Linked DNA regions of Homo sapiens: region 1 is linked to region 2. The links come from fine-mapping of genetic effects on plasma protein levels. Region 2 holds a variant in brackets. A gene starts in the other region. All regions are shown on their reverse strands.

Region 1 (15,768 bases), not on the chromosome of region 2:
TGATTTTACACAATGGCTGCTCTTCCCTTCTTTAACTATTATTCATTCTTCTTTGATCCTCATTATTTGACTGTAGTCCTTCTTATGTCTTGTTTTCCTTCATTACCTCTTATTCTATCACATTGCCATTGTCATTCTCCACTGGGGAAGCTCTTTCTTGCTGAAGACTGGAAAGACAAGTCCATTCACCTGATTTTCTGTAAGATTGTGGCTCATGTATTGACTTGTCAGACAATTCTGAAGTTTCATCAAAATTAGCTATCATGCTTGCATAATGGCCCTGAACCCTCACTCCTACTCTTAGCTTCAGTACCATCTATGTCCTCAACTGTCCATGATACTTATAATTCCCGTAAATCTTCACTTAACACCTAACATTTATTTAATCTTACTAGGCAAGGTAATAAGAAATACATAGGTTTGCCTCCAGAAGTGGGTTCTTAAGAAACCCACCAGAGGAACTCCTCTTTCAGATGTCCACATTAGAAGATTTCATATCACATTTGGTGCCACAGGCCTTTGACAAGGAGGATGCAGAGGAAAAAGCAAACTTCACCTCTTCCTAGGGAAAGTGTTGGCCTGCCAACAGGAAAGAGGCAACATCTGGGAAAATCCCCAGTCTTTGCCAGGAAGAGTCCATGCCAACCCCACCCCATGACCCCTGTCCTGCCTACTCATTGTCACTCTTCACTCCAATGTCCCTCCCCCAGATCCTCTTATAAAATCCCACTCTTTCCTGACCAGACAAACCATACCATATCCCACCAGAGAGGTAAGTGGGAGCTGAGAGAAGATGAGACCCAGGGAGGAGCTACTGCACATGACACAGGAGAATACATGGGAGGGTCCCTTCCTCAGGGAGCACAGGAACTCTGAGACTCAGCAAGGGTGTCCTGGGAGGGCTCGGGGATGGGAGAGTACACAGATTCACAACTCATTCAGAACTGTAGAAGATGATGGATGTGACCAAGATCACTTTAGTCCTAGGGGACTAGAGAAGGAAAATGACATGAGGCAGTGGGGTATCTGTGTGTTCTCCCACTGACCACGCTTTCTTTAGTGACTCCTGATTGCCTCCTCAAGTCGCAGACACTATGCTGCCTCCCATGGCCCTGCCCAGTGTATCTTGGATGCTGCTTTCCTGCCTCATGCTGCTGTCTCAGGTTCAAGGTGAGATTGCTTTGCCTCTAGCACTGGGTTCCCTATGAATCCTCAGAGCTAACAAGAGGAGGAAGGCTCCTGTGTGTCATGTGAGGTAATGACGTGGTGTCTAATGAACCTGCCTGCAGTTCTTGCATCATCTCTCCTTCCTTCAGGTTAACTTGCAGTGGGAGGCTCCATGGTGGTCCACTAACAGTGGAATGAGATGGCTTCCATTTAGTCAGTGGACTCTAATATACACTGGTGGGAAAGTGGACTCTAATATACACTGGAGGGTCAGTAATGAGATGTGGGGAGGGACAATGATTGGAGGACCCAATGTAGAGACAGCCCAGAGTGAGGAGAGTATTGAATGGTTGAATAAGGGGAAAGGGTAATAAGAGACTGGATGGTGCTCCATTTACTACGGCTATTTTGAGATAAAGAATTTCTGAAAACATAAGGGAAGATGAAGGGGTGTCAGGAATGTGGTCTTCCTCCCCAAGGACATTCCTAGGTATTCCCCAAGGTCATCTCCCACCCCAAGCCCCACTCTTCATTTTACCCTCCCCCCTCTTCTTCCACCTCAGGTGAAGAACCCCAGAGGGAACTGCCCTCTGCACGGATCCGCTGTCCCAAAGGCTCCAAGGCCTATGGCTCCCACTGCTATGCCTTGTTTTTGTCACCAAAATCCTGGACAGATGCAGATGTGAGTGGTTAGATGTGGTGTTGGAGGTGACCGGTCTCAGGGGGAGGAGGGTCTCCATTCAGGAGAGTTCCTTGGGAATGAGGATGAACACGTTTATCTTTCACACAGTCCTCCTCCCACCTACCTTTGCCCTGCCCTCCCTCAGCAGGTCTCAGGCTCCCTCTCATTCTCTTTGTTGCCCTCAAAGCTGGCCTGCCAGAAGCGGCCCTCTGGAAACCTGGTGTCTGTGCTCAGTGGGGCTGAGGGATCCTTCGTGTCCTCCCTGGTGAAGAGCATTGGTAACAGCTACTCATACGTCTGGATTGGGCTCCATGACCCCACACAGGTGCCAGTATATCCTCCCCTCTCTGTTACCTCTCAAGGTGCTATTGTTGCCCAGGCCCACTCCCTGTCCCCTGTGCCTGCCCAGGAAGTACTTCAGGGAGCACTGGAGCTCAGATTCTGGGGAATATTTGGGGGGAAAGGGAAGGCCATGAAGCATCTGAAGATCTGAGTTCTGTGGAGGTCTCTATCTTTCAGATAAAATCAATCTGCCTTCCTCAGGCGTATTACATAATTCTCATATGAGGCTGGGTTAACAATTCTCTGAGCTTCATGGAGTCTTTGCCTACTATTCTGAAGGAACTCTTAATGAAGATAGGATCAATTTTTGTCCCCATACAGAACTGACATTACTTTTGAGGTTCACAAGCTAATCACAAATGCTACATCAATTATTGTTCTGCAAATAATATATTACCTTGAGTTGTTCCAAAGGTCTTATGTTTATTGGCTGGAATTTTCCAATAGCAATGAGGAGTCAAGGAAGAGTTTCCTACTCACCGGCAGCATCTGGAATAGCAGACCAACTTTCCTCATGCTGGGGAGCAAATCAGGTGTTGCAGCTAAGGGGCCATGCAAGAAGAGCTGCAATGGCCATTCCCTTCACCTGGCTACCTCCTCTACTCTACAGGGCACCGAGCCCAATGGAGAAGGTTGGGAGTGGAGTAGCAGTGATGTGATGAATTACTTTGCATGGGAGAGAAATCCCTCCACCATCTCAAGCCCCGGCCACTGTGCGAGCCTGTCGAGAAGCACAGGTAAGAAACAGAGGAGCTGCCTCTTCCCAGTGTTTTCCATCTCATCCCCCATTCCTGGGTCTGACCTTCAGGAAATCTTCCTGAGCTAGAAAATACAATGTTAGTGTGTCTTCTCTTATCTCCTCTCTTCTCCACTTTCTTTGAATCTCTCTCCTGGATTGGGACACTGGTGAAGGTGAGGGAGAGGCTTTAACTTCTAGGCTAAAACCTGGGATGCCCCTTCATTGGATTCACAAGCTTCCTCAGCCCCATTCCATTTATGTCTTCTGTCTCTCCAGCATTTCTGAGGTGGAAAGATTATAACTGTAATGTGAGGTTACCCTATGTCTGCAAGTTCACTGACTAGTGCAGGAGGGAAGTCAGCAGCCTGTGTTTGGTGTGCAACTCATCATGGGCATGAGACCAGTGTGAGGACTCACCCTGGAAGAGAATATTCGCTTAATTCCCCCAACCTGACCACCTCATTCTTATCTTTCTTCTGTTTCTTCCTCCCCGCTGTCATTTCAGTCTCTTCATTTTGTCATACGGCCTAAGGCTTTAAAGAGCAATAAAATTTTTAGTCTGCACTTGTTTGTCTTGTATATGCCAGTGTCATAGCCATACTCTGAGAAGGACAAAGTGTTTGAGTGGAGGAAACTTTATGGGTCTTGCTTCTTCCCTATTCACCCAGGCCTCTAGGGAAAATGATGAAGTGTGCATCCCTACCAGTGTGTTATGATGAGGGTGTGGGTCCTGCTCATGTAGGATTTGTGTTGTGGAGAGATGAGGACATTTCTCTCCCGCGTACTTACTGCCCTCCCATTCCCGTAGCCCAAACCTGACAGTGTGACATGAACAGATTTAGGAGGCTCTGATGGTGCTTAGAATAGTACTTCTCAGAGAATGGCATCAGCAGGATGGTAGATAGGACTTTCCAGCTCTTGAACCTTCACAGAAACATTCATTTGAACTACTACCCATTAAAATGGAAATACCTTCACAAGAGCTAACAATCCCAAGTGAGTGATTAAAGCATCTGAATGTTGCAAAAAATAAGAAAGGATGCATCGAAGAGGGTAGAAAGAAGACTTTTACATTATTTATATCACCCCTCCATCAATCTCAGTAAGCACAGCATGGAGAGACATTCCCTAAACTTGGGGAAAGAGAGTGAAATAAGCACTTGAGTTTTCCATGGACCCTAACACTAGGTTTGCCTCAGTAAGACCCAGTGGCCTCTGACTCCAGGCAGACACCCTTGGACTTAGACTCCAGGCTGCCTTGATGCCAGGCCAGGCTCTGTGGCCCCAGGCTCTGTGACCCCAGGCTCCAGGTCAGCCCCCATGACTGCAGCCTCCAGTCTTGCCCCAGAAGATGCAGGCTCTAGACACACACAGCATCATGCTTTTCCCCATAGCTCCAGACCACAGGCCAGCACCCACTGACAAAGACTCTAAGCCCACCTCAAGGACAAGCTAGCACTTGCAGCCACAGACTCCAGGGTGACCCCTGAAATCCTAGACATCAGGCCTGCCCATGTGGACCTGCCCTTCAGACCCACCACAGCTCCAGGATAGCTCCCACAGCTACAACTTCAGGCCAGCACTTGCAGACCCCAGCTCCAGACTGACACTCACAGTCGCAGGATACGGTCCTGTCAAATCCCAAACCCTCCCCAAGCCTTTAGGTCCATCTGAGCACAAAGCCCTGATGCTAGGCCAGCCTCTGTGGCCTCTGTCACTAGGCCAGCCCCCACAGACACAAGTTCTGGATTTTCCCAGTTCCAGGCGAGGCTCTGTGGACTCGGTACTAGTCTGGCCTCATACTCCAGCAGACCCAGGATCAAGCTTCATTACAGTAGACCTTAGCACCAGGCCAGCCCCCCCGACTCAGGCTCCAGCCTTAGCCCCATGAATCCAGTCTCCAGACTTACCCCAGAGGCAAGTTGACATTCATGGTCCCAGGCTACAGGCCACCCCCACTAACCCTGGCTCCATACCAGCCCCTGTAGTTTCAGGTACCAGCCCAGTATGCACAGACTCAAACTCCAGACCTGTCCTAGAGACTCAGATACTACATCTGTCCTAGTGCCTGGCTAACCCCTGAAGACATGGGTTCAAGGCCTGCTTTAGAGCCAGATTGGTCTCCAGGAAGTAGGATTTAGTCTGGCTCCTGTGATTAGAGGCTTCGGGCCTGCCCTCATGAAGTGACTGCCTACCCTGGTATACCAAGTCAATAGGTCCACTTGAGGATGCCAGCAGCAAGCCTGCCCAAAGACCAAGCCAGATGGCCTGCCCAGAATCTCTGGATGACTGACTGGTGAAGGGCTTTGTCTGCTAAAGCCAGTCTGTAAAAACTGGAATAAGTGACTACTTGTTCAAAAAGTCAAACACCAAAGACACATGACCACAAGTATCATAAACAATCAAGGAAATATGATATTACCAACAGAACAAAATAAAGGACTAGTAACTGACCTTAAGGGGAAAGAATTTTACAAACTGCTCAACAAATAATTTAAAGCAATTGTCTAAAAGAAACTCAGTGAGCTACAAGAGAATACAGATAGACAACTAAATGAAATCAGAAAAACAATATGTGAACAAAATCAGAAGGTCAAGAAAGAGATTTGTTTTAAAGTTAAAAAAAAACACATAGTGGCTGAACTGAAGAAATGCATGGAGAATTTCAACAGCAGACTTGATCAAGCAGCAGAAAAAGTCAGTGAGTTTGAGACAAGTCATTTGAAATTATCCAGTCAGAGAAACAAAAAGAAAAAAGAAACAAAAAGAGAAAATAAAGCTTAAGGAAACTATGGTACATGATCAACTGAGCCAATATATATATTATGGGTTTTCTAGAAGGAGCAGAGGCAGAAAATGGGCAGAAAACATATATAAAAAATAATGGGTCATGGGGTTTGGCATCCCCATGCCTGTCAGTGCCTCACCCCAGCCAACGAGCATGCACCCAGCCATGCTGCCACTGCCGTGGCATGAGCACAGATCCCACTGCTATCACCCTGACAGAGTACTGTGGTCACTGCCACTTACTGGAGTGTTGTGGCCAGCAATCCAGGAACACCTTTGGACCCCCAGCACAGCAGGTTCCTAACTTCGAGGGGTGAGAGAACAAAGCTAGGGGCCTGATAATAGCATTCCAGAATTGGGGAATGCTGAGCTGAACCTTGGCCCACTGACATCTTCCAGAAATGAAGTGAGTCAACTGAGCCCACCTTATACCACAATCAAACCCCCAAGGGCATCAAAAAGGATAAACACACACACACACACACACACACACACACACACACAATCCATCCAAAAAACAGCAACTTCAAAGATTAAAGGAACGCCAGCCCACACAGATGAGAAAGAACCAGTGCAAGAACTCTGGCAACTCCAAAAGCCAGCGTCTATTTTTACCTCCAAACAATTACACTAGTTATCCAGCAATGGTTCCTAACCAGTCTGAAATATCTGAAATGACAGAAATAGATCTTGGAATATGGATAGGAACCAAGATTATTGAGCTTCAGGCAAAAGTGAAAATCCATTTCCAGGATTCTATACAATAAAACGATACAGAAAATGAAAGATGAAATGGTCATTTTAAGAAAGAACCAAACTGATCTGATAGAGGTGAAAAACTCATTTCAAAAATTTCAGAATACAATCACAAGTATTAACAGCAGAATTGATCAAGCTGAGGAAAGAATCTCAGATCTCAAAGACAGTTCTCTGAAATAACTTAGACACATATTAGAAATTAAAAAAAGATTGAAGAAAATTAAACAAAACCTCTGAAAATTATGGTATTATGTAAAGAGACCAAATTTATGACTCATTGAAAGCAAGCAATTTGGAAAACATATTTCAAAATATCATCCATGAAAACTTCCCCAACCTCCTTGGAGAGGGCAAACTTTAAATTCAGGAAATGCAGAGAACCCCTGTGAGACTACACAAGATAACCATCCCCAAGCCACACAGTCATCAGACTCTCCAAGGCTGAAATGAAAGAAAAAAATGTTAAAGGTAGCTAGAGAGAAGGGGTAGATCACTTACAAAGGGAACCTCATCAGGCTAACAGCAGTGTTGTCAGCAGAAATCCTACAAGCCAGAAGAGATTGGGGCCCTATATTCAGCATTCTTAAGGCAAAGAAATCCTAAACAAGAATTTCATATCCAGGAAAACTAAGCTTCATAAGCTAAGGAGAAATAAGATCCTTTTCAGATAATCAAATGCTAAAGGAATTTATTACCTCCAGACCTGCCTTACAAAATAACCTAAAAAGAGTGCTAAATACAGAAAGGAGTGACCATTACTGGCTACTACAAAAACATACTTAAGTACATAGACCAGTGACACTATAAAGCAACCACACAAACAAGTCTTCATAATAACTAGCTAACAACATGATGACAGGATCAAATCTGCATACATCAATACTAACCTTGAATGTAAATGGGCTAAATGCCCCAATTAAAAGGTACAGAGTGGCAAGTTGGAAAACAAGCATGACATAATGGTATGCCCCTCTCATATGCAATGACCCATCTCACATGCAATGACACTACTAGACTCAAAGTAAAGGGATGGAGAAAAATCTACCATGCAAACAAAAAACAGAAAAAAAAAGCCAGGTTTGCTATACCAATTTCAGACAAAACAGACTGTAAACCAAGAGATTTTTGAAAGACAAGGGCATTATGCAGTGGTAAAGGGCTCCATTCAAATGAAGACCTAACTATCCTAAATATATACATACCCAATACAGGAGCACCCAGATTTATAAAGCAAGTTCTTAGAGACCTACAAAGAGAATTAGATAACCACACAATCAGAGTAGAGACTTCAATACTCCACTGGCAGTATTAGACAGATCATCGAAGCAGAAAACTAACGATGATATTCAGGACCTGAACTCAACACTTGACCATATCTAGTAGACATCTACAGAACTCCTCACTCTCAAACAATAGAATACACATTTTTCTCATTGGCACATAGCACATTCTCTAAAATTGACCACACAATTGAGCATAAAACAATCCTCAGCAAGCTCAAAAAAACAACAACATAAAAACAAAAACAGAAATCATACCAACCACACTCTTTGATCGACCACAGTGCAATAACAATAGAAATCCCTACTAAAAAATCACCTGAAACCATACAATTACATGGAAATTAAACAGCCTGCTCCTGAATGACTTTGAGGTAAATAATGAAATTAAGGTAGGCATAAAGAAATTCTTTGAAATGAATGAGAACAAAGATGCAACATATCAGAACCTCCCACACACAGCTAAAGCAGTGTTAAGAGGGAAGTTTATAGCACTAAACACCCACATCAAGAAGTTAGACAGATCTCAAGTTAACAATCTAACATCACACTTAGAGGAATTAGACAAGTGAGAACAAACCAACTCCAAAGCTAGCAGATACAAGAAATAACCAAAATCCGACCTGAGCTGAAGGAAACTGAGATGTGAAAATCATACAGAAGATCAACAAATCCATGAATATGTCATTTAAAAGAATAAATATGACTGATACAACACTGGCTAGACTGACACAGAAAAAAGATAAGATCCAAATAAACACAATCAGAAATGACAAAGGGGACATTACCACTGACACCACAGGAAAAACAAGCAAACAAGCAAACAAACAAACAAAAACCCTCGACGACTACTTTGAACACCACTGTGCATACAAGTTGAAAGACCTAGAAGAAACGGTTTAATTCTTGGAAGCATATAACCTCCCAAGATTGAACCAGGAAGAAATTGAATCCCTGAACAGACCAATAATGAGTTCTGAAATTAAATCATTAATAAAATACCTACCAACCAGAGAAAGCCCAGGGCAGGATAGATTTTCTGCCAAATTCTGTGAGATGTATAAAGAAGAGCAGAAGACACCATTCTTACTAAAACTATTCCAAAAAATTGAGGAGGGGAGACTCCTTCCTAACTCATTCTATGAGGCCAACATTGTCCTGATATGAAAATCTGACAAAGACACAACAACAACAAAAAATCCAACTTCAGGCCAATATCCTTGATGAACATTGATGCAAAAATCCTTAACAAAATACTAGCCAACTAAATCCAGCAACACACCAAAAAGCCACAATCAACTAGGCTTTAGAATGTGAGGTTGGTTCAACATATCTAAATCAATAAATTGATTTATCACATAAACAGAACCAAAAACAAAAAACACATCATCATATCTATATATGCAGGAAAGGCTTTAGACAAAATTAAACATCTCTTTGTGTTTAAACCCTAAACAAAGTAGGCATTGAAGGAATATCCTTTAGAACCTTAAGCGCCATCTATGACAAACCCATAGAAAACATCGTACTGAATGGACAAAAACTGGATGCATTCCCCTTGAAAACTGAAATAAGACAAGAAAGTCCTCTCTCCCCATTTCTATTCTACATATTACTGAAAGTCCTGGCCAAAACAATCAGGCAATAGAAGGAAATAAATGGCATCCAGATAGGGTGAGAGAAAGTCAAACTATCCCTGTTTGCATATGATACTATTCTATATCTAGAAAACCCCATTATCTCAGCCCAAAAGCTCCTTCAGCTGATGAACAACTTCAGCAAAGTTTCAGGATACAAAATCAATGAAAGAAAATCACTAGGATTCCTATATAACAACAATATCCCAGCAGAGAGACAAATCAAGAACACAATCCCATTCACAATAGTTATAAGAAGAATAAAATGCCTAAGAATACAGATAAGCAGGGCGACAAAAGAACTCTACAAGGAGAATTATCAAACACTGCTCAAAAAAATCAGAGATGACACAAACAAATGAAAAAACATTCCAGGCTCATTGATAGGAAAAATCAATATTGTTAAAATGGCCATACTGCCCAAGGCAATTTATAGATTTAATGTTATTCATAAGAAACTACCGGAAACTTTCTTCACAGAATTAGAAAAACTATTTTAAACTTTATATGGAACAAAAAAGCCCGAATAGTCAAGGCATTCCTAAGCAAAAAGGACAAAGCTGAAGGCATCACATTGCCCAACTTCAAATTATACTAGAAGGCTACAGTAACCCAAACTGCATGGTACTAGTACAAAAAGAGACAGATAGACCAAAGGAACAGAATAGAAATCCCAGAAATAATGCTACATACCTACAAACATCTGATCTTCAACAAAGTTGACAAAAATAAGCAGTGGGAAAAGGACTTCCTATTCAATAAATGGTGCTGGGATAACTGGATAGTCATATGTAGATGATTGAAACTGGACCCCTTCTTTATACTATTTTAAAAGGTAAACTCAAGATGGATTAAAGAGTCAAATGTAAAACTATAAAATCCTGGAAGATAACCTAGGAAATGCCCTTCTGGACATAGGATCTTGCAAAGATTTCATGATGAAGATGCCAAAAGCAATTGCAACAAAAACAAAAATTGACAAATGGGATCTAATTAAAGAAAAGAGCTTCTAAACAACAAAAGAAATTATCAAAAGAGTAAACAGACAACCTACAGAATGGGAGAAAACATTTGCAAACTATGCATCTGACATAGTTTGGTCTAATATCCAGAATCTACAAAAATCTTAAATTAGCAAGCAAAAACTGAACAACTGCATTAAAACGTGTGCAAAGGACATGAACAGACACTTTTCGAAAGAAGATATACACACAGCCAAGAAGCATATAAATATGCTCAAAATCACTAATCATCAGATAAATGAAAATTAATACCACAGTGAGATGCCATCTCACACCAGTCAGCATGGCTGTTTTTAAAAAGTCAAAAAATAACAGATGCTAGCAAGGTTGCAGAGAATAGGCTATGTTTATACACTTCTGGTAGGAATGTAAATTAGTTCAGCCACTGTGGAAAGCAGTTTGGAAATTTATCAGATAAGTTAAAACAGAACTACTATTTGACCCAGCAATGCTATTATGGGGCATATACCAAAAGGAATATAAATCATTCTAACATAAAGATATATGCATATATATGTTCATTACACTGTTATTCACATAGCAAAGACATGGAATCAACCTAAATGCCCATCAACAGTAGGCTAAATAAAGCGAATGTGGTACATATACACAGTGGAATACTACATAGCCATAAAAAACAATAAAATCATGTTTGCAGCAACATGGATGGAGCTGGAGGCCATGATCCTCCACCAACTAACACAGGAACAGAAAACCAAATACTGTATGTTATCACTTATAAGTGAGAGCTAAAGTTTGACTACAGATGGCCACCAAGAAGAAGAAAACACACACTGGAACCTACTTGAGGATGAGGGGTGAAATGAGAGCAAGGACTGGAAAAGCACCTATTGGATATTAAGCTTATTACCTGGATGAAAAAATAATCTATACACCAAACCACTGTGACATACAATTTACCTATATAACAGACTGGCACATGTACTCTTGAACCTGAAATAAAAGATTTTAAAAAAAGAAAGAAAAAAATGGTTGTGAAAAACTTCCCATAACTGGTGAGAAAAAGGAACATCTACATCCATGAAGTACAAAAAACTCCACATACATTAAATATAAAGACATCTTCACTGAGACACATTACAATCAAATTCCAAAAAGTCAGGGATGAAAAGAAAATTTTCAATGCAGCGAAAGAAAAATAACATATTATGTGCAAGCGAATGTCTATAAGATTATCAGTTGATTTTTCAGAAGGTACCTTTCAGGGCAGGAGAGAGTGGGATAATATATTCAACATACTCAATGAAAAAACAAAACAAAACAAAACCCTGCAAACCAAGAACACTATACCTGGCAATCCTATCCTTCAGAAACGATGAAAAGAGAGGAAGTTTACCAGAAAAACAAAAGCTGAGAGAGTTCATTAACACTAGACCTTCTTTATGTAAAAGACTAAAAGAATTTCTTCAAGATGGAAGATAAAAATGCTAGCTGATACCATAAAAACACAGGAAAGTATAAAGTATAAATTGACTATGTTAAGTACATAGTAAAATTTGAAATACTCTAACATTGTAGTGATGGTTGGTAAATCACTTAAATCTTTAGCATAAAAGACAAAACTATTAAAAACAACAGTAACTACAATAATTGTTAAGGAATATGCAATAAAGAAACATGTAAATTGTGACACCAATAACAAGAATGTGCAAACAACAGCAAAAGTGTAAAATATTTTTATGTGATCAAGTTATCTTTTTAAAATAGTCTATTATAAATATATTTTTGTAAGCTTTATGGTAACCACAAAGCAAAGACCTATAATAGATAAATAATAAGAAGCAAGCAACCAAAGTATACCACAAGAGAAAATTATCTAGTCAAAAAGAAGAGAGAAAGAGAGGAAGAAAGAAACAAAGGACCTACAAAACAACCAGGGAACAATGAACAAAATGGCAGTAGTAAGTAATTACTTATTAATGATTATTCAAAAAGTAAATGAGTAAAATTCTCCAGTCAAATGGTATAGAGTGATCAAATGAATTTAAAAAAATACCAACACACAACTTAATGTTCCTACAAGAAACTTACTTTAGCTTTAAGAACACACATAGGCTGCATGTGAAAGAATTAAGATATTTCATGCAAATGATACCAAAATAAAACAGTGGTAGCTATAGTTATATTACATAAAATAGACTTTAAGTTAAAAACTTTAAAGAGAGGCAAAGGTCATTATATAATAATAAAGAAGTCAATTCAGCAAGAGGATATAATAATTTTAAATATGTGTGTACACATCATTGGAGCCCATAAATATATAAAGCAAATATCAATAGATCTGAAGAGAGAGAAAAATTGTAATACAATATTTGTTGGATAATTCAGTACCCACTTTCAACAATGGGCAGGTCATTCAGACAGAAAAAAATTCAATAAACAGCGGACTTGAACTACACTTCAGACAAATGGACCTGACAGACATACAGAACATTTCTTCCAACAAGAGCATAATAAACATTCTTCTCAAGTGCACATGGGACATGCTTCTGGAGAGATCATATATTTGGCCATAAACATAGGCTCAACAAATTTTAAACGACTGAAATCATATCAAGTATAATTTTCACCCAAAATAGTACAATACTAGAAATCAATAAAAAGAGAAAGATTGGAAAATATTCAAATATGTAGAAATTAAATGACATTATCCTAAGCAACCAGTGGACCAGAGAAGAAATTAAAAGTGAGATTAGTGGTGGGATCCAGCAGTCCCACTACTGGGTATCCAGCCACATACAAAAATGATTATATATCAAAAAAACACCAGCATGCATGTGTTTATTGTAGCATAATTCACAATTGCAAAGATATGTGCCCATCAACCAAAGATGGATAAAGAAAATGTAGCATACATATATATACATATACATATACAGACACACACAGACATATACCATATATATATACACACACACACATATATACCATGGAATAATGGTAATTGACTAGCCATAAAAAAGAACAAAATAATGTATTTTGCAGAAACTTGGTTGGAACTGGAGGCTGTCACTCTAGGTGAAGTAACTCAGGAATGAAAAACCAAATATTGCATGTTCTCACTTAAAATTGGGAGCCAAGCTGTGGGAACCCAAAGGCACACAGAGTGATAAAATAAACATTGGAGACTCAGGGTGGGGAGGGGAATGAGTGATGAAAAACTACCCATTGAGTACACTACTCGAGGTAGAGTACTGGAGTGATGCGTGCACTAAAATCTTAGACTTCACCACTATATAATTCATCCATGTAAGCGAAAGCCAATTGTACCACTAAAGCTACTGAAATAAAAAATTAAATTAGTATTAGAAAAATATTTTGAGACAAATGAAAACGAATATACAACATACTAAACTTATGGTATGTAGCAAAAGCAGTCCTAAAAGGGAATTTTATAGCAATAAATGCTTACATTAAAAATAAAGATCTCAAATAAACAACTTGACTGTACACCTTGAGAAACTAGAAGAAAAAATAAGCCAATATTTTGTAGAAGTAAAGAAATAATAAAGATTAGAGCAGAAATAAATGAAATAAAGACTAGAAAAAGAATAGAAAAGATCGAGAATGAGAGTTGTTTTTTTTTGAAAAGGTGAATTAAATTAACAAACTTTTAGCCAGACTAAGAAAATAGAAGACCCAAATAAAATGAAGATGAGAAAGGAGACATTACAACTTAAACCACAGAAATTCAAAGGATCATTAAAGAGTATTATAAGCAACTAAGTATCTTATTGATACATATTGGAAAACCTAGAATAAATTGATAGATTTCTAGACACAGAACCAAACAAGATTGAACCATGGAGAAATCTAAAATATACATAGATCAATGGCAAGTAATAAGATGTAATTAGTAATAAAAAGTCTTCCATCAAAGGAAAGCCCAGAATGGGACGGCTTCAAGTCTGAATTCTATTTAAAGAATTAATACCAATCTTTCTCAAACTCTTCCAAAAAATTAACTAGGAGGGAATACTTCTAAACTCATTTTATGAGACCAGTATTACTCTGACACCAAAGCCAGAGAAAGACACTACAAGAAAATAAAACTAAAGACAAATATCCTTGATGAAATAAGATGCAAAAATCCTCAACAAAATACTAGTAAACTATTTTCAACAGCACATTAAAATGATCAAGTGGGATTCATCCCTGGGATGCAAGAATGGTTCAACATATGCAAATCAATAAATAATTTGCAACATTTATTGATTATTACTAAATAATAATAAATTACATTTATTATTGTTACTAAAATGAAGGACAAAAAAGATTATCCAATAGATGCAGAAAAAGCAATTGACAACATTCAGCCTTATTTTATATTTAAAAAAAACTGTCAGAAAATTAGATATAAAAGGAACGTACTGGCCGGATGCAGTGGCTCATGCCTGTAATCCCAGCACTTTGGGAGGCCGAGGGGGGCAGATCACCTGAGATCAGGGTTCAAGACCAGCCTGGCCAACAGGGTGAAACTCTGTCTCTACTAAAAATACAAAAAATAGCCGGCCCTGGTGGCAGGCTCCTGTAATCCCAGTTACTTAGGAGGCTGAGGCAGGATAATCGGTTGAACCCAGGAGGCAAAGTTTTCAGTGAGCTGAGATTGCGCCATTGCACTCCAGCCTGAGTGACAAGAGTGAAACTCTGTCTTAAAATAAAGGAATGTACCTCAACGCAATAAAGACCATATGCAACAAGCCTCCAGCTCTCAACATACTCAATGGTGAAAAGTCAGTTTTCCCTCTAAGATCTGGAACAAGACAAGCATGCCCACTCTCACCACTTCTCTTCAACATAGCACTCAAAGTCCTACCCAGAGCAATTAGACAAGAGAAACAAGCAAAAGCATTGAAACTGGAAAGGAAGAAGTTACATTCTCTCTTTTTGTGAATGACATGATCTTACATTTAGAAAACCCTACAGACTACATTAAAAAATACTATTAGAAGTAATAAAATAATTTGATAAGGTTTCAGGTTACTAAATAAACATACAAAAATTAGTAGCATTTTTACACTAACCATAAACTCTCCTAAAGGAAATCAAGAAAACAACCATATTTCCAGTAACTACAAAAATACTTAGGAATAAATTTAACCAAAGAAGTAAAAGATCAGTGCAATAAAAATAATAAAACTGGTATCAAAGAAATTGAATAAAACACAAATAAATGAAACTTATCCCATGTTCATAGACTGGATAAGTTAATATTGTTAAAGTCTTCATACTACCCAAAGCAATCTACAGTTTCAATGCAATTCCTGTTGAATTTCTAATAACATTTTTCACAAAAGTAGGAAAAATAATCTTAAAATTGAGATAGACCCAC
Region 2 (16,145 bases):
AGGTACTGTGCCCAGTGATTCATCTGTACCAGCCCCTTCACCCTCAGTCACCCCATGAGGGGGATGCTGCTATCATTCCCATTTTGCAGATGGGGACATGTAGGCCCAGGGGCTAGAGTGACTTGCTCCAGGGCAGCTATATCAGTGAGGGAGAATGGCAGAATGGTCCACTCAGCCCACAGGTGGGCCCCTCACCCACACCCCTGCCCCTTTTCTGGGTTCCAATAGAAGTATGGGAGAGGAGGAGGATGGAGGGTCTGCTGGGAGGGGTGTGAGGGCTGGCCTTGCAGCCTGTGGGCTCTGGCCAGGGAGCCCTTTCTTTTCTCTGTGCCATCCCCAATTAAGTAATCAAAGTAACCCACAGCTATAAAGAGTTAAATTAATATAGCGAATGGAGCCAGGTGCGGTGGCTCACGCCTGTAATCCCAGCACTTTGGGAGGCCGAGGTGGGCGGGTCCCCTGAGGTCAGGAGTTTGAGACCAGCCTGGCCAACATGGTGAAACCCCGTCCCTACTAAAATACAAAAAATTAGCTGGGCATGGTGGCATGTGCCTGTAATCCCAGCTACTTGGGTGGCTGAAGCAGGAGAATCGCTTGAACCCAGGAGGCGAAGGGGTTCAATGAGCCTACATTGCACCACTGCACTCCAGCCTGAACGACGGAGGGAGACTCTGCCTTAATAATAATAATAATAATATAAGGAATGGTTTATTAGTAGTTGGAGTTGGAAGAGACTTCCTAGGAGAGTGAGCTCCCTGCCAGGGTGTAGTCTTGAGAGAGCAGTTGAAGGCCACTCATCTGTGGGCATGAGGGTGCAGTGGTTCTGAATCTGGCTTCAGATTCACACAGGCCTGGTTTTCAGCTCTGTCTGAGCCAGTTACTGTTTGGCCTCAGGCCTCAGTTTCACCACATTTAAAATGGGGGTGATAGCAGTTCCTATCTCCTAGGGTGATGGTGAGGATGAAATAAGACACCATAGTAAAATGCTTAGCACAGGTCTGGCCTGGAGTAAGTGTCTGACAGATGGATGCCATTATTAGGCGCCTGTTGTAGAGAGGGCCACGCGCCAGGCAGATAGTTGGGCTGCACAGATACTTTTGGAGGGAGGTTTTTCAAATTGTGGATCAGGGCCACTAATTGGACCCTAATTCAGCCATGAAATCAGTTTGGTGGGTCTCCATGAATTTTTTTTTAATGAAAAAGAAGAGACTAGAAAATATTCAAGTGTATTGCTCAGTATCAGTAAGCATTGTTGTGTAGAACATGTTTCGTGTGTGTGTGTGTGTGTGTGTGTGTGTGTGTATGTGTGCCTAGTGTCAAATAAAGTATATTTTTCTGTGAGCCATGGTCCAAAACTTTGGTGCCACTGCATTAGAGATTCTGTCCCTCCTGTGCCATGTTTATAGAGCACCTACTGAATATAAGGCGCAGCAGCAGTGCTATGGCCAGGGTGCCTGTCCTCAGCAAACCTCATGGTCTGACTGGAGAATCAGGGCCCAGTTCTTAGCAAGGTGGTTACCAAGACTGTGGGTCAGCAGAGGAGGGAGCAGAGTGGTCAGAGAGGGATTCCTGGGTGATGACCCTGTGTCAGGTGGGGACGATGAGAGGGGGTGATGCCTGGGGTGAATGGTTGGCCTGGGTCCTGGGGGCTGGGGCTGGGGGCTGGAGAGCTACCTGGAAAGGTGGGAGGCTGCCGTCAGTGGAAGGCTGCAGGGTCAGGCCTGGCAGGAGCTGCCCATGCTTGCTGGAGCAGGGGGTTGGGTGGAGGTTGGGGTCTCAGGATTATTCAAGAACATTACATTTATTGTGTACTTTATTTCTATGATTATTACATTGTAATATATGATGGAATAATTATATATGGGTGAGGGCTGTGCCAGTCTCCCTGGCTGGGGTGGGGTGGGGTAGAGAAGGACTCGGCCTTACTGATGCCCCCTCCCCCAGCTTGCAGGATCTGTAGTCACTATGGGTGAGACCCACGTGGGCCTGGCCTGCAACCTGGCTCTCAGCTTGAGCCCTATCCAGAAGCCAGAAGACTTCCCACTATTTAGATCCCTGCCCTGGGAAGTGCTTGGCCTAGTCAGGACCTCAGTTTCTCCATCTGTAAAGGAGGCACACTGTCTCCTGAGCGGCCAGCCTCCTGGGTGGTGATGCCCATCTTGTGACCTATTGTGGATGAACCGGCTGCAGGAAGTATGAAGAGCTCTGGGTGGGTTATGATTGTCGTCTTTAAGGCTGGGAGGACTGGGGAAGGTCATGAGGACATCAGCTGCCTGTCTGGAGAGCCCCTGGCCTCCCTACCCTGTGACCTAGGGCAGTGGGAGGAGAAGCCTGTGACCCATGGCAGGCTGGGGATATCCCCAGCTTTGAGTGCAGGCAGCCCAGTAGGGGCCTCAGATGATGAGACCCAGATCTGGCCTAAATCTGGGAACCCCCAACCTCTAAAGCTCCACTCTTCATTGAGTACCCCAGGAGTCCCAGCTTAAGGGGCTGTGGTGGCAGGTGGAGAGGCAGTAACCTAGGACTGATTGGCAGGGGCCAGTTTTCAGGAGGCTGTGGGTGGCTTCCAACCCACTGAGCACAGAGCCCAGAGGCTCAGGCATGAGCTCCCACAGTAGAATGTGGTGTTTAATGACAGGTCACATATATTGGCACTCCTGTGTGCCAGCGCTGTGCTAAGCACTTTTATATATTTGCAAACTTTATACAACAACCGAATGCAGGTCTTTTTATTATCCCATTTTACAGGGATAATAAAATGGGCCTCAGGAAGCTGAGGCCCAGAGAGGTTAAATCTCTCACCCAAGGTTACCTAGCTAGTAAATGGGAGAGCTGGCCTGAGGGCCTGAGTTCTGGATTCGGGATACTAGAGTTCAAATCTGGGTAGTGCCACTTTCTAGCTGTGGGTCCTCAAACAGTGACTGAATCTCTCTGACCATTGGTTTCTTCCTCTGTGCCTTCCTCAAAGGGTTGTTGTGAGAGCTATGTGAGATAAAGACTGAGAAGTACATAGTACACAATAAGGGCCGAATAAATGGGACCTGCCACATGACCTGCATGCCAGTAACTGCCGTGTGACCCTGGGCCGGGTGTCTGGCCTCCTAGGTCTCAGTCTCCTCAGTTGTGTGACACAGGGCACTGACCCCTTCCTTGCTCCTCTCAATAGGGTTGTTGAAGATGTTGGATGGGTCCTGAAGGAGACCTTCAGTGAAATAGAAGTGGTAGACCAGCGGTCCCCAACCTTTTTGGCACCAGGGACTGGTTTCGTGGAAGACAGTTTTTCCATGGATGGATGGCAGGGGAGGGTTTCAGGATCATTCAAGAGCATTACATTTATTGTGCACTTTATTTCTATTATTATTACATTGTAATATATGATGAAATAATTATACAACTCACCATAATGTACAATTGGTGGGAGCCCTGAGCTTGTTTTCCTGCCACTAGACGGTCCCATCTGGGGGTGATGGGAGACAGTGACAGGTCATCAGGCATTAGATTCTCCTAAGGAGCATGCAACCTAGATCCCTCACATGCACAATGCACAATAGGGTTTGCACTCCTATAAGAATCCAGTGCCACTGCTGATCTGACAGGAGGTGGAGCTCAGGTGGTAATGTGAGCAATGGGGAGTGGCTGCAAATATAGATGAAGCTTCGCTCACCTGCCTGCCTGCCCACCACTCACCTCCTGCTGTGTGGTCTGGTTCCTAACCGGCCATGGATTAGTATGGGTCTGTGGCCTGGGGACTGGGGACCCCTGTGCTAGACTACTTGAATCTCCAGAGCTGTCAGGAATTCTTTAGGGTTTGCAGCCAACCGCAGGTCCCAACGGATTGTGTTTGGGCCTGCTTCAGGCTTTCATGTTTCCTGTTGGCCCCTGCAGGCATTTGAGTTGGTGGCTCCAAATCTATTCCAGGGTTTCCCAAGATGTTTTCTGTGGAAAGGTTTAGAGGTCAAGCAGGCACAGGAGACTGTAAGTCAAAGAAAAAAAAAAAAAGAAAAATAGGGGTTGGGGGAATGGGGAGATGATAGTCAAAGGGTACAAAACCTCAAACAGGGGGCATAAGTTTTTTCCTTGAGATGTATTGTACGGCATGGTGAATATAGTAAATAGTAATTATTGTATATTTCAAAATCATTTAAGAGTTAATTTTAAATGTTCTAGGCTGGGTGTGGTGGCTCATGCTTGTAATACCAACACTTTGGGAGACTGAGGCGGGAGACTTCAGCCTAGGAGTTCAAGACCAGCCTGGGCAACATGGTGAAACCTGTTACTACAAACAAAAAAATACAAAAATTATCCGGGTGTGATGATGCATGCCTGTAGTCCCAGCTATGGGAGAGGCTGAGGTGGGACGATCAATTGAGCCTGGGAGGTTGAGGCTGCAGTGCGCTGTGATCATTCCACTGCACTCTAGCCTGGGTGACAGAGCGAGACCCTGTCTCCAAAAACAAACAAACAAACAAAATAAAACAACAAAAAAAAACACCCCCAAAATTCAAATGTTCTTACCACCCAAAATGACAAGTATTTGAGGTGATGTATATGTTAATTAACTTGATTTAATTATTCCACATGGTGCTCATAAATCATAGCATCACCTTGTACTCCATAAATATATACAACTACACAAAACCCCAAATGGTTTTCTTTGCTGTAGGGCTTGTCAGAGCCTGTGATATGCTAATTTTTGTTGTACATCTCCAATATGTGGTCATGATATATACTCTAGGGTATCTCAAAGGCCTGGTGTTTAAAGCCCCATTTTCCAGATAGAGAAACTAAGACCTGGAATGAAACTTAGGAAGGGATTTTCCCAGGTTATGCAGTTACCTGTTACAGAGCTAGGGCCAGACTCCTTGCTCCTGACTCCATGGCCAGTGCTCTGCCCAGGATACCTCTTCCTCTTCCTTCTTCCTTTGTCCTCAGAGAAGTGTTGTGTGTGCTGCTGTTTCCTCCTGAGAGCTCCTTACCTTTTTCTGGCCCCCTCCTGCTTGCTCCCAGCATTAGAGGGTGTCTGTTTCCTTCTGGGCATTGCTATGAGATGGAGCTATGCCTAGTTTATGGCTGCTGGGAGATCCTTCTCAGACTAATAGATGGCAATAAGGCTTCATCCCAGCTGCAGGGCCCCTAGCAAGTTAATTCCATTTCCTGAGCCTCATTCTCCTCAGTTGTGTAATGAAACTCATCATCTTGTCTGTCTTCTGGAGTTTTTGAGAAGTTCAGCTCTGATATCATACATGAACGTGCTCTACTAATTTTCAATCCATATGCAGATATCCATGAGTCTGACAGTTCTTATAATTTCTGGGGGCAGTGAGGACATGGGAAAAGGAGGCCCTGGCTGTGGGAGCTAGCATGGTTGGGGCCCTAAAGTTCTGATCCCCTCCCCCGGCCACAGTTGATGTCTGCTTTTCAGTGTACTGCTGCCTCTCTCTGCTCTCAGTTCCCCTGAACATGTCTGAAGTGGGCCGGTCTAGCTGACTCGAGGGACCCATGTCACAGGTGAGACATGAAATGAAGCACGATTTTCGAGCTGGGGGGCCCTATTTTCCTAGTTTCCTGCTGGGAGTTGGTGTTAGAGTGGGGAAACAACTCAAGTGACTTGGTGCCTCAGTACAGCTCTGCCTGGAGCAGGGAGTTCCCACCAGCTTCTGCCCAGTCCTTTGATGCCCCCACCCTTCATGGAGGGTGGCCGGTCACCTGGCTTGTGATGTAGGGTGCACGCGGGCATGCCGATGCCTCCATCAACACAGCAGTTAGGTTCGAAATGCTCCAGGTCCTCTGCTAGCTGTGGGGGACTCTGAGTGATGGGCCAGGGGGTAGGCCAGGCTGGGTTGTGAGGTGGGAGGAGGTGGTGGCTCCCTGTCAGAGAGTGTCCTCTCCTGGAGGGCTGTTTGCCCAAGTTATTCTTAGCACAGACTCATTATAGAGTCTATTTTTAGCCCTGTTTCTAAGTGTTGCCAACATCTGGTGCAGCCAGCACTAAAGGGGGTGGGGGTGGCAGGGGCTACTCCTTTGGACATTTCTGGGGACTGGAGCCTCTGGCAGGAGAGCAAGGACAGAATCTTCTACTTCCTGCACCTGCCACAGCTTGAAGCTTGGCATGCAGTAGGTGTCCTATTCATGCTTGTGCGTTGATTGCTCTCCCAGGATCTCATCCTTCCAGCTCTAGCTCCTGTGAGTGGGTGGGTGGTGGGGATGGTGTTACCACAGCTGGAGAGGATGAGCTGAAGGTGCTCATCAGATAGGTTTCCCACATCCACCCCTCAGGGGTCCAGTTGGCCTCAGACCCCTGCAGAGAGGCCTCAGAGGAGGGAGGCAAGCCCCAAACTATGGTGCTTGTGACAGCTACCGCTGAAGGAGGAGCCAGCAGACATTATAGGGAGGGGGTGTACCACTGGGGTGAGACTGCCTGGGGTTGAATCCTAGCTCGGCTCTTTCCTAGCTGTGTAAACTTGGGCAACTCATCAACCTCTGTATGCCTCAGTTTCCTCCTCTGTGAGATGGAGATGGGAGTGTAGTGTTGTGAGGATTAAGTAAGATAATACTGTATGAACTGCCTAAATAGAAAGTGCTGTATAATAGAGAGGTGGTGGTATTAGTAGCAGTGGTAGTGCTATATTACTGAGAAGCTCCGTATGTGACATCCTGTTGGGGTGAGTTGGGTAGGAGACCTCTCAGCTTTTCTTTGAGTGAGATGAGGCTTGCAGTGGGGCTCAGAGGAAGTTGTTATAGCCAGGCACCACGACAGTGGTGATGTCTGCAAGGCTGCAGTGGGGGTCAAGAGCTATGTGCTGGGTTGGAATCTGGGCTTTGCCACTCACAGGTTGGGTGACCTTGGATGAGTCACTTAATCTTCCTGAACGCCCACTTCTTTATATACAAGAAAGAAATGATAATACCTGGGTCATAGGCGTGATGTACGTGGAGCTTTTTGCCCTGTACTGGGAGCATGGGAGGACCTGAATCCGTGAGACTTTTTTTTTTTTTTTCTTAATTGAGACAGATTCTCGCTCTGTCGCCCAGGCTGGAGTGCAGTAGCGTGATCTCGGCTCACTGCAAGCTCCGCCTCCTGGGTTCAAGCGATTCTCCTGCCTCAGTCTCCCGAGTAGCTGGGATTACAGGCATCCGCCACCACACCCGGCTAATTTTTGTAATTTTAGTAGAGATGGGGTTTCACCATGTTGGTCAAGCTGGTCTCGAACTCCCGACCTCAGGTGATCCACCCGCCTCAGCCTCCCAAAGTGCTAGGATGACAGGTGTCAGCCACTGCGCCCGGCTCATGAGACTTTTTTGGGAGTGGGGGTGTTGCTGTGTCCCTTTCCCATGTGGAGGATGGGGTCCTGTTGTCTTGAGAGTCTTGGGAAACAGCTTGGCCTGGAAGTTGGGAGGGCCAGGGCTGTGGTCCTAGCTCTCCCTAAGCTGTGTGGTCCGCACATACTCCCTGCTTCCTCCAGACTTCCGCAACATGGAGAGGCCAGAGAAAACTGTGGTTTTCAGATTCTTCGTCACAGTCCCAGAAGGTGCCTTGGGTACTATCTGGGAGCGTGGGGGAGGCCCTGGTTGGAGGCCAGGTGGGGTGGTCCTCCCACTCCCCATGCTGCTCTCCTGCTCCTCACACTGACTCCTGGTGCTCCATGGAGCGGCTTCATCCTCATGTTTTACATATCAAGGGTCCAGGCCGACTTTGTCTGAAAATGGGAGTGCTGCTGCTAACATCAACCTGGGACTTTCTGGTAGGTGACTCCCAGGCTCCTTGTCGTCTGACATTTTGTGCCCTCTGACTTGGCATGGACTCCCGGAGGAGTGCCAACCTGTATATCAGGGTCTGGAGTGCTGTGGTCACTGGATTCCCTGAGGGCTGGAGTCCCTTGGGGTGTGGAGGGCAGAGGAGGCTGCCTCCAGGGCCTCTCTGGGGCC[G/A]GGCCGCCACTCAAGGGTAGAGCTTCCAGCGCTGCCCCAGTCTCCCCGCACCCTCGGGATGGGGGTCCCCTGAAGACAATAGTCCGTCTCAGAAGCAGTGTCTCACAGGAGGGAGGGGTGATATGGGCAGAAAGGCCCTGCCAGAGTGCTGGCATGTAGTAAGTGCTCAAGAAATATTTGAAATGAATGAATGGAATGATACCATCAAGGCCGCACCTCTGATCTGGTGATGAATTTTCCCTCGCCTCCCTTTTCTTCCTTCTCGCCCCTGCTCCCTCTTCCCCATCCTCTGCTTTGTCTGACTAGCCATAAGCTACCCCAGCCTGGGTTCCAGATTCAGCCTTATTCATAATCTAGAACAAAGACACTTCCCCAATGTGAGTTACAGTTTGTTCATCTGGAAAACAAACACGATGGGCTCAGGTTCCGAAGGCCCTTTGGTTCTCACCGTCTCTTTTCTCAGGGCATGGGAGTGATTTCTCAGAGTAGGGGTGGTAGAAGCACATGCATACACACACGCACACACACAGACACGCACGCACATGCACGCACATGCATGCACATGCACACACACGCACACATGCACACGCATGCACATGCACACACACGCACACATGCACACGCACACACACACACACGTGCACACACACACGCACACACAGGACTCAGTGCAGTGGTCTTGGCTGGGAAAGGTCCTTGCCCTCTGACCAGGAAGGAGCCCTCGGAGCTGAGGTGCTCCCAGACTCAGCACTGTTTGGGGCCTACAGGATGTGGTGTGGCCCACTCTAGCTCAGGCTGGGGGGTTCCTGTGGGTGTCAGGGGATGGGTGGCCATCCAACTGTGTCCACTGGGCTGGGCTGCCACAGTGACTTTGTGTATGACCTTCAGGGAGTGTGGGTGGCATGCATCAGGACGCCTATCTGTGTCGTTATGACTGGGCGTGAGGGAGGGTGCCACATGTCTAGCCAGCCAGGGAGCAGGGCCAGTTAGCTCCTGTTCCTGGGTGCCTCCTGGCTCTGGGGAGAATAGAAAATGATTCATGCAAAGGGGCCCTCCCTGTTTTGGCCACAGCCTGAGGAGTAAGGTGGCCTGGCTGTCTGCCTTTCCCTGCTGCCCACCAGGTGCCTGAGTTCTCCCCTCCTTCCTCGCCTCAGACCGCGTTTCTCCCTGGGGGTAGGTGGCTGCCCTTCCCTGCAGCCTGACACCCTCTCAGAGACAATTAGAGGAGTAGGCTGCCCATGCCTACAGCTATAAGAGTGAGTCAGCGTAGGGACCGGAGGGGATCAAGTCTCTCTGAATCCTGCGGCCAGACGGTCCCTGCACCAGAAGAAGTGGCCCAGTGAGGCCTGGGCTGGGATGCTGTGGTCAGCACTGATACCAGCTGAGTGGCTTTCCAGCTTGAGAAGACCTGCCAGGGACAGGAGAGGACAAGCTCCACCTGCCCACCACCCGCCTCGCCATCCTGGCTGCAGCCAGCTGGTGACTCATTCTCCTGGGGAGTGAGCCAGCTCCTCTCCTGGGGTACCCCAGCACCCTGGTGCAGGCTGGGTGGCCAGGAGTCCTGGGTGCCTCAGAAAACCTGTGCTGAGCCCAGGGCCCTGGTAAGCTGGGGAGGGAGGACTGAGGCCCTCTGTATGGGGTGGGGGTCGCAGCCAGACTTCTCTTGCTCCTTCTCCTGGCCCCCGCAGACTTCACCCTCCCTCTGGCCAAAGAGGAGGCTGCAACCCCAGATTACGTAATAGGTCCAAAATGCCTCGCAAGCGAGCAGCCCAGCCAGTGGCTAGACTCAGGAGTCCCCATTTCCCAGTACCTGCCACCAGAGCAAGTTCCCATTCCCTTCCTAGGCCGGGTGGGGGAGTGGGTGGTGCTTGCTCACCCCTGGAAAGAGCTGTGCTGCCTGGGAGGGGGTGGGGAGGCTTTCTCCAGAGACATGAATTCTTGGCCTGACCCCAGATGCCAGCCTGCCTGCCCAGCTCCACTCCAGAGTAACGCTGGGTGCACACACAGCCCCATTGTGTGCCTGGGCCCCGTGCCTGCCCAGGGCCTGGCACCGGCTCTATCAACAGCAGTGGCTCCGTCAGCTCCTCAGCAGCCCCTGCCAGTGCTTGAGCCCTTGGGCCCCTGGTGAGGAGGAAGAGGGAGGACTAGTGATTAAGGGTATGAGTCCTGGGTGGGGTACCAGGACCTTTTGGATACTATCAACTATGAGAGACAAGAGCAGGGAGACTTAGTCCTGTTCTCCGAGGAGGAAACTGAGGCCCTGAGAGGCTTCAGTAACTTGCCCAAGGCCTCATGGCTAGTGAGAAGCAGAGCCGGGGTTGGAGCCCAGAGCTGTGGCTGAGCCCCTTACTGGTCTCGTCACCCAATCCCAGACCAGGACTCAGGAAAAGGCACGGTGCCCTCTTTCCACAGCCCCACTTTGGGGAGCCTCTTTCTCGAAAATATATGTCCCCAGGGTAGAAGAGGACCCTGAGACGGTAGGATCTGGAGTCCTGTAGGACCCTGGAATGGTAGGATTTGGAGTCCTGTGTGCTTGTGAGAAACATGGGGGTTCATTTTCAAGGATGGTGCTGGTGGCCAGACAGGCAGAGCAGGTTTCCAGAGCTGGAGGACAGGCTCTGTGCCTCAGTTTCCCTGCTCTACCTGCACTGTACATCCACTGTGCCTTCTAGGAGGGGATAGAAATATTGAGGTGAGGTATGGCCGGGGCTGGGGACTGGACCCCCACTGCTGAGCTCTATAGGCTGTGCGAAGCCCCCTTCACCAACCCAGAACCCCACTCAATGCCTCATGATGGTTCTATTCTAAGTTGGGTCTGAGCCATCCACCTCCTCAGCTTTCCCAGCCTGAAGAGGCCTCTGAGCTGGGTGAGCCTGCCAAGGGGGCAGCCCAGCTCGGTGCCATGAGGGCCCTGCCTCTGCCGCAGGCCCATGTTCCCCCACCCCCCTGCCAAGGTGAGGGTGCCCAGACATGACCCTTTTGGGGCCTGCCCTGTGTTTTACTTTCCAGGCTAGGCTTATTCACTCAGAGAGGCTTGACCCCCTGGGGCTTGGGGGAGCTGAAGGGCTCCTCCCTTCTCCAACAGCCCACCCTTTTGTTCCCCTGTCTGTCTTGGGCATGAAGCCTGGCTCCCTCCTTCTACACCACCTCAGCGCTCTTAGCAAAGGGACAGGGAATTCTGCAGTGACTGCAGGATTGTGAAATGCCAGGGCTGGACCTTGGGGACAGGCAGGGAAGAGAGATGCTGGAAGGGGACACCGAGACTGTGTCCTTTCATACCCCACCTGGGAGGCCAGTCTCCTCCATTCTGCTGGCGCTCATTTTCCTGCATGTATACCATTCCCACCCACCAGTCAGCACACCTTCACCTAAGGCCACAGCGGTGGGGACGTTGAGCCCAGAGGGCCATGTCCGAGTGTCCTCTACCTGGAGCCTGTGTGGGAGAGGAGGAAACCAAGGGACAGCCCTCAAGGAGTTCACACTGCAGCTGAGAAAACCAGAGAGGTGACTTCTTTGTACCTGTTTCTCATTTGTAAAATGAGTACAGTAGTATTTCCTACTTCCTAGTGTTATTGGGAAGGCCAAATGAATTAATACATGATAAAGCCAAGGGCCTGGCACTGGCTCTATCACGGCTTTAGAAGCCATCCTTGATAGATGGTTTTACAACTCAATACAAGTTTTAGTATTATCCATAGTGGTAGAAGAAATACAATATATGCTATCAGGTGATGATGTTTTTTCCAAGCTGGATTGTAAAAACCATAGGGCAAGGGCTGTCTTATTCATCCTTGTATTCCTGTTTCAGACACAGAACCAGGCTTGGAACAGAGTAAGTAATTGTGCCCAAATGGTGATTAGAGGTGGGTGAAGTCAGGGTGTGCTGTCGGGAGGAGGAGGAGACCCTGGAGCAGGGCTTCCAGAGAGGAGGAGAAGTTGGATAATCTGTGGGAGAGGAACTGGGGGAGGGTCTGGGGGCCCAGATTGGGTTGGCGTGAGAGAGCAAGGAGGTCCCCTTGGCTGCACCCAGTGTTTGTTTAGGGAGAGGGATCCTGCATGCTTTGGAGGCCCAACTAGAGCGCTTGGACTTTATCTGGTAGGTAGTGGAGAGCAATTGGGGGTGATGGAGCAGGAAAAAAATGGTCTTTCTATGTTGCTCCATCTGTTTCATTTTGTTTTTGCTCCCTTGTTCTCTGAGGAATATTTTCTTTCTTCATTTCTCCAAAGACAATAAATCCTCTCTGCTCTTCAGCCTCTTCTTTCTGATCCGTAGTTACCCCTGTCCCAAATCCCTGCATTCTGTTCTTGGCTTCTTCTCCTTGGCCATCCTGGCCTGTTGTCCCTGCTGTGCTTTTACCTGGCTTCCCCTTCCTTTATCTGGTCCCTGACCCACCTTCTCTGGAATAGGAGTTGGGTGGAGTTGGACTTGCTGAGAGATGGGTACTGGCATGGCATGACCACATGGTGGGAGCTGGTATGAAGGCAACTGAGCCAGGAGGATATCCTCTATTCTGATGTAACTCTATACATCCTTCAGGGAATGACTCTGCCCCAGTTATGTGGCTAAGGCCCATTAGAAGGATCTTACTTTATATTTGTCAACCTGTTTAATGAAAATGTAGATTTCCAAAATAGATAAATTAGGGAGTGATGGAATCTTATTTTCTCGTTTATAAATTTAGTGGAAAGATCAGCACTTTGGGAGGCTGAGGCAGGAGAATCGCTTGAGGCCAGGAGTTCAAGACTAGCCTGGGCAACATAATGAGACCCCCATCTCTACAAAAAATAAACAAATTAGTGGGGGCATAGTGGCACACACTTGTGGTCTCAACTACTTGGGAGGCTGAGGTGGGAGGATCGTTTGAGCCTGGAAGGGTGAAGCTGCAGTGAGATGTGGTTGCGCCACTGCACTCCAGCCTGGATGACAGAGTGAGACCCTGTCTCAAAAATAAAAATAAAAAATAAATTTAATGGAAAGGGATATTGAACCAGATGGGAACGATGCAGACAACTAGTGCCTTTTTCATCTCCTTTTAAACATCCATCCATCTATCCATGCATACATCTATCCATTATATCCACCTTTTCATCCATTATATCCATCCATCCATCCATCCACCCACCATTATATCCACCTTTTCATCTGTCCACCCGTCCATTTAGGCATGCATCCATTATATCCATCCATCCATCCATCCATCCATCCATCCATCCATCCACCAACCATTATATCTACTTTTTCATGCATCCACCCATCCATTTATGCATGCATCCATTATGTCCATCCATCCATTATATACATGCATCCATCTAATATTTATTGAGCACCTATCCTGTGCCAGGTACTGCATTAGATACTTTATGTTTAATCCTTACAGAAATTCTCCAGGGTGGATATTGTCCTAATTTTACACATGAGGATACTGCGACCCTGGGAATTTAAGTAAGTTGATGAAGGTCACACAGCTAGAAAGTGACAGATCTGGGATTCAGCTTGACTAGGTTCAAAACACACACTCTTAGTGTTTAATCAAATGGCCTCTGTTGGTGTCACCAGTGCCTAGTTCTAAGTGCGGAACATAATAGCTGTGTTATTGAATGAACAGGCATGCCAAGGTTCTGGAATGCTGGAGCTCTATAGCTCTATCCTAGGAGCAGCCTGGGGGCAGAAGGCAATGCTGGGCTTCTAGTCCTACTGGCATTTGCTACCAGCAACCTAATGTTGCCATCACTACCCCCGGTATGGAGGTTTCTTCTCCATGCAACTTGCAACTCTGGCAAGTCCTGTTTTCTTCTCTCTACCATCCCAGCTCTCCTTCTGAGGGCAGTCTTAACCTTCCGCCAAGTGGGGAAGTTCCAAGTACACATTTGGCCATTGCATCCAGCTTGACCAGTCTCCCCAGTGACTGGTCTTCCCCTAGCTCACACCTGCCTCTCTCCTTCCCTGTAGGGTGGGCTAGCTTGCATTACTCTGACCCTTTTATTGGCCCCTATTTCTAAGCTTTAGAGTTAGCTATTCAGTATCAGGTCATAACTGCCTCCTCAGGGCCCATTGGGTGAGGCAAGGATATGAGTGCAAACAGTTTATTTGGGAGGCTCCCCCAGGGAGCACCAGTGGTAGAGTAGGATTCATGAGACAGGAAGGCAAGGAAGCTGATAAAATGTGTGTGAAGGAGCAAGGTGACTGTGGGCATCTGAGGCTCACTGCCATTGGAGGCCTCTGCAGAATATGCTTTAGAGTTCCCCAGTCAAGTGATAGGTGTCTTTGGCTAAGAGGTGGTGGGGAAGGGAGGGAGCTAACTTCATTGGTTCAGGCACCAATTCAGGTGCTGGCACCTGGAAATCTTCAGGTGGGCACTTTTGACATCGTGAGGGCCCAGAGCATGTGGCTGGGGCCCTGATAGCTTTTGCCACCTCATCAAGCCCAGCCCTGGGGGTCTGCCAAGCCCTCTTCCCACATCTCCCTTTCTATGTCCAAGAGGCTTCCCCAGGCAGACCCTTCCCCAGTCGCCAGTTCCACGCTCACTGTGTTTCACAGATACTTAGGGAGCATCTACAAGGTGCCATGGACAAAAAGAGGAAGCTGTCAGGATGCCTCCAGGCACTCACAGCAGAGGAAGGTGACCTGTGCGGCTGAGGCGCCTGCCATGTGGCAGACACTGGCTCGCCCATCCCAGGCCTTGTGCAAGGCCAGCAATGCCCCTGTGGCATGGCATCCTCTCCTAGAGGGAGGTACAGACGTGCTGAGCGCCACAGAGCCTAGAGCCGTCTTCCACTTCCCTCCCAACTCTAGCATCCTGAGGCTGTGATTGTAGTGGTTTTTCTGACTTCCTTTTCCTTTCTGTCACTGCGCCTGCCTCTTCCCCTAGCCCCATGGCCGCCACGTGGCTGCCTTTTAGTCAGCCGGGAACTGAGCCTCCTAGTAGCCTCCCTCTGTGTCTCTGTCAGGAACAGGATACAATTCAGGGACATTTTGGTGGGGGAGTAATTTCGTGCGGTGGCATACCTGTTTGCCCTGGCACAGGCTCTGTCATGTCTGCTTCTTGGAGAGGAGCCTTCTTCCCCTGGGCTCCACCTGTTCCCATCCCCAGCCCTCCCAGCTTCAGGCTACAGGTCTCGCACCCTATAGGGCTGAGGGAATGGGAAGAATTAAAAGAGGGAAGTGGCGTGTAGGTAAGGCCTTCTGGGGTGGGGGCTAGGGGAAGGGCAGGAGATGGGGATGGGGCAGGGGCTGGGCCTGGCGGTGTGCTTCCCCTGGAGACGTGGTCCTGGGCCACAGGCAGGCACGCCAAGTCACAGCCCCTCTGACTTCTTCCTCCAGCCACCAGCCCCAGCCTTTCCCCTTGATGTTTCATTTCCAAACCAGGTCTGCTCTGGGTGCGTGTGCTGGGGTGGCAGGGGTAGGAGTGTGTCTGCCTGTGCCATTCCCTACCCTGTGGGCAGGCCCAGCCATGGCAGCCCGAGTCTATCATCTCCCCACTCCGCCACTTGGATAGGAAGGTGGCTGCACTCACTCCAGGCAGGTGTGTTGTTGGGAGGAGAACAGAGAGGATTGGTTCAGGCATTGGAAGATGGGGTTTATGTCTCAGGTTTGAGCTCAAGCATCTTGGGTCCAGGGAGAAGGTGTAAGGCAGCTGCTGCCTGAGTCTCAACTCTATGGGGGAAAGCAGAGCAGCTCTGAGCCTTGGGGCTGGGCAGGCAGGAGGGCATGGAGCCCAGATGAGTGGAAGAGAATGATGATGAAAGAGCAGACTTCCCGATGCTCCTCCCCCGACCCCATCACATGCAGAGTTCAACACACCCCACTCCTCGCTCTGTCCTGGTAAAGGCAGAGTGCTTCTTATGGTGTTTAAGGACAGGAAAAGGGCTGGAAGTGTGTGTGTGTGAATTTTGCTTCCTGTTCCTTTCATACCTGGGTGTGGGCGGGGGGAGATGGGGGCAGGTTGGGGGACAGCTCACTCACTCCATCCGGTGGGTGGGTGACTTGGTGGGCTGTTGGAATGTTGCCATAGGAGGCCATTTCTCCTCTATGGGGGGAGATGGTGGCTTCCAGGTCAGGTCTCCTCCTCTGGCTCCCTGACAGAGATGGGGTGGGAATGCCAGCCGGAGCGCACATGGACAGGGCAGGAGCAAAGCTGAATTCTGGGTCTAGGGCAGCTGACAGCATTTGGGAATCCTGGGGTGGGCCCCTGTTAGCTCTTCCCAGAACCCCAACTCTT

Direction of the effects. Positions count from the first base shown, and alleles are read on the strand shown. Strength reflects both the effect of a copy and how common the allele is.
For the plasma level of the protein whose gene starts at base 747 in region 1, allele A in region 2 goes with a higher level than allele G (weak association).

The links. A credible set is the group of variants that fine-mapping cannot tell apart. PIP is the chance, under the fine-mapping model, that this variant and not a neighbour inherited with it causes the effect. The UK Biobank Pharma Proteomics Project read protein levels with antibody pairs (Olink). The fine-mapping took linkage between variants from a reference panel, not from the people measured, so its PIPs are less certain.
Region 1: REG3A starts here. The variant in region 2 is the best candidate, but not a certain one, in a credible set for the plasma level of the REG3A protein (UK Biobank, PIP 0.73).

What each region holds. Positions count from the first base shown.
Region 1 is chr2:79,144,732-79,160,499 of GRCh38, reverse strand. REG3A (regenerating family member 3 alpha) reads left to right here and starts at 747. Exons shown (of 6, transcript NM_002580.3): 1 at 747-772; 2 at 1,061-1,170; 3 at 1,731-1,849; 4 at 2,037-2,174; 5 at 2,802-2,928; 6 at 3,207-3,494. The coding sequence starts at 1,095. The coding sequence ends at 3,274.
Region 2 is chr6:41,706,530-41,722,674 of GRCh38, reverse strand. The region is part of intron 1 of TFEB (transcription factor EB); the gene reads left to right. Among named protein-coding and RNA genes, the nearest start is that of MIR10398, 19 kb to the left of the region's middle. RefSeq lists enhancers at 5,783-5,842, 6,083-6,182, 6,293-6,342, 8,423-9,146, 9,147-9,872 and 3 more. The variant G/A (reference allele first, on the strand shown) is at 7,927.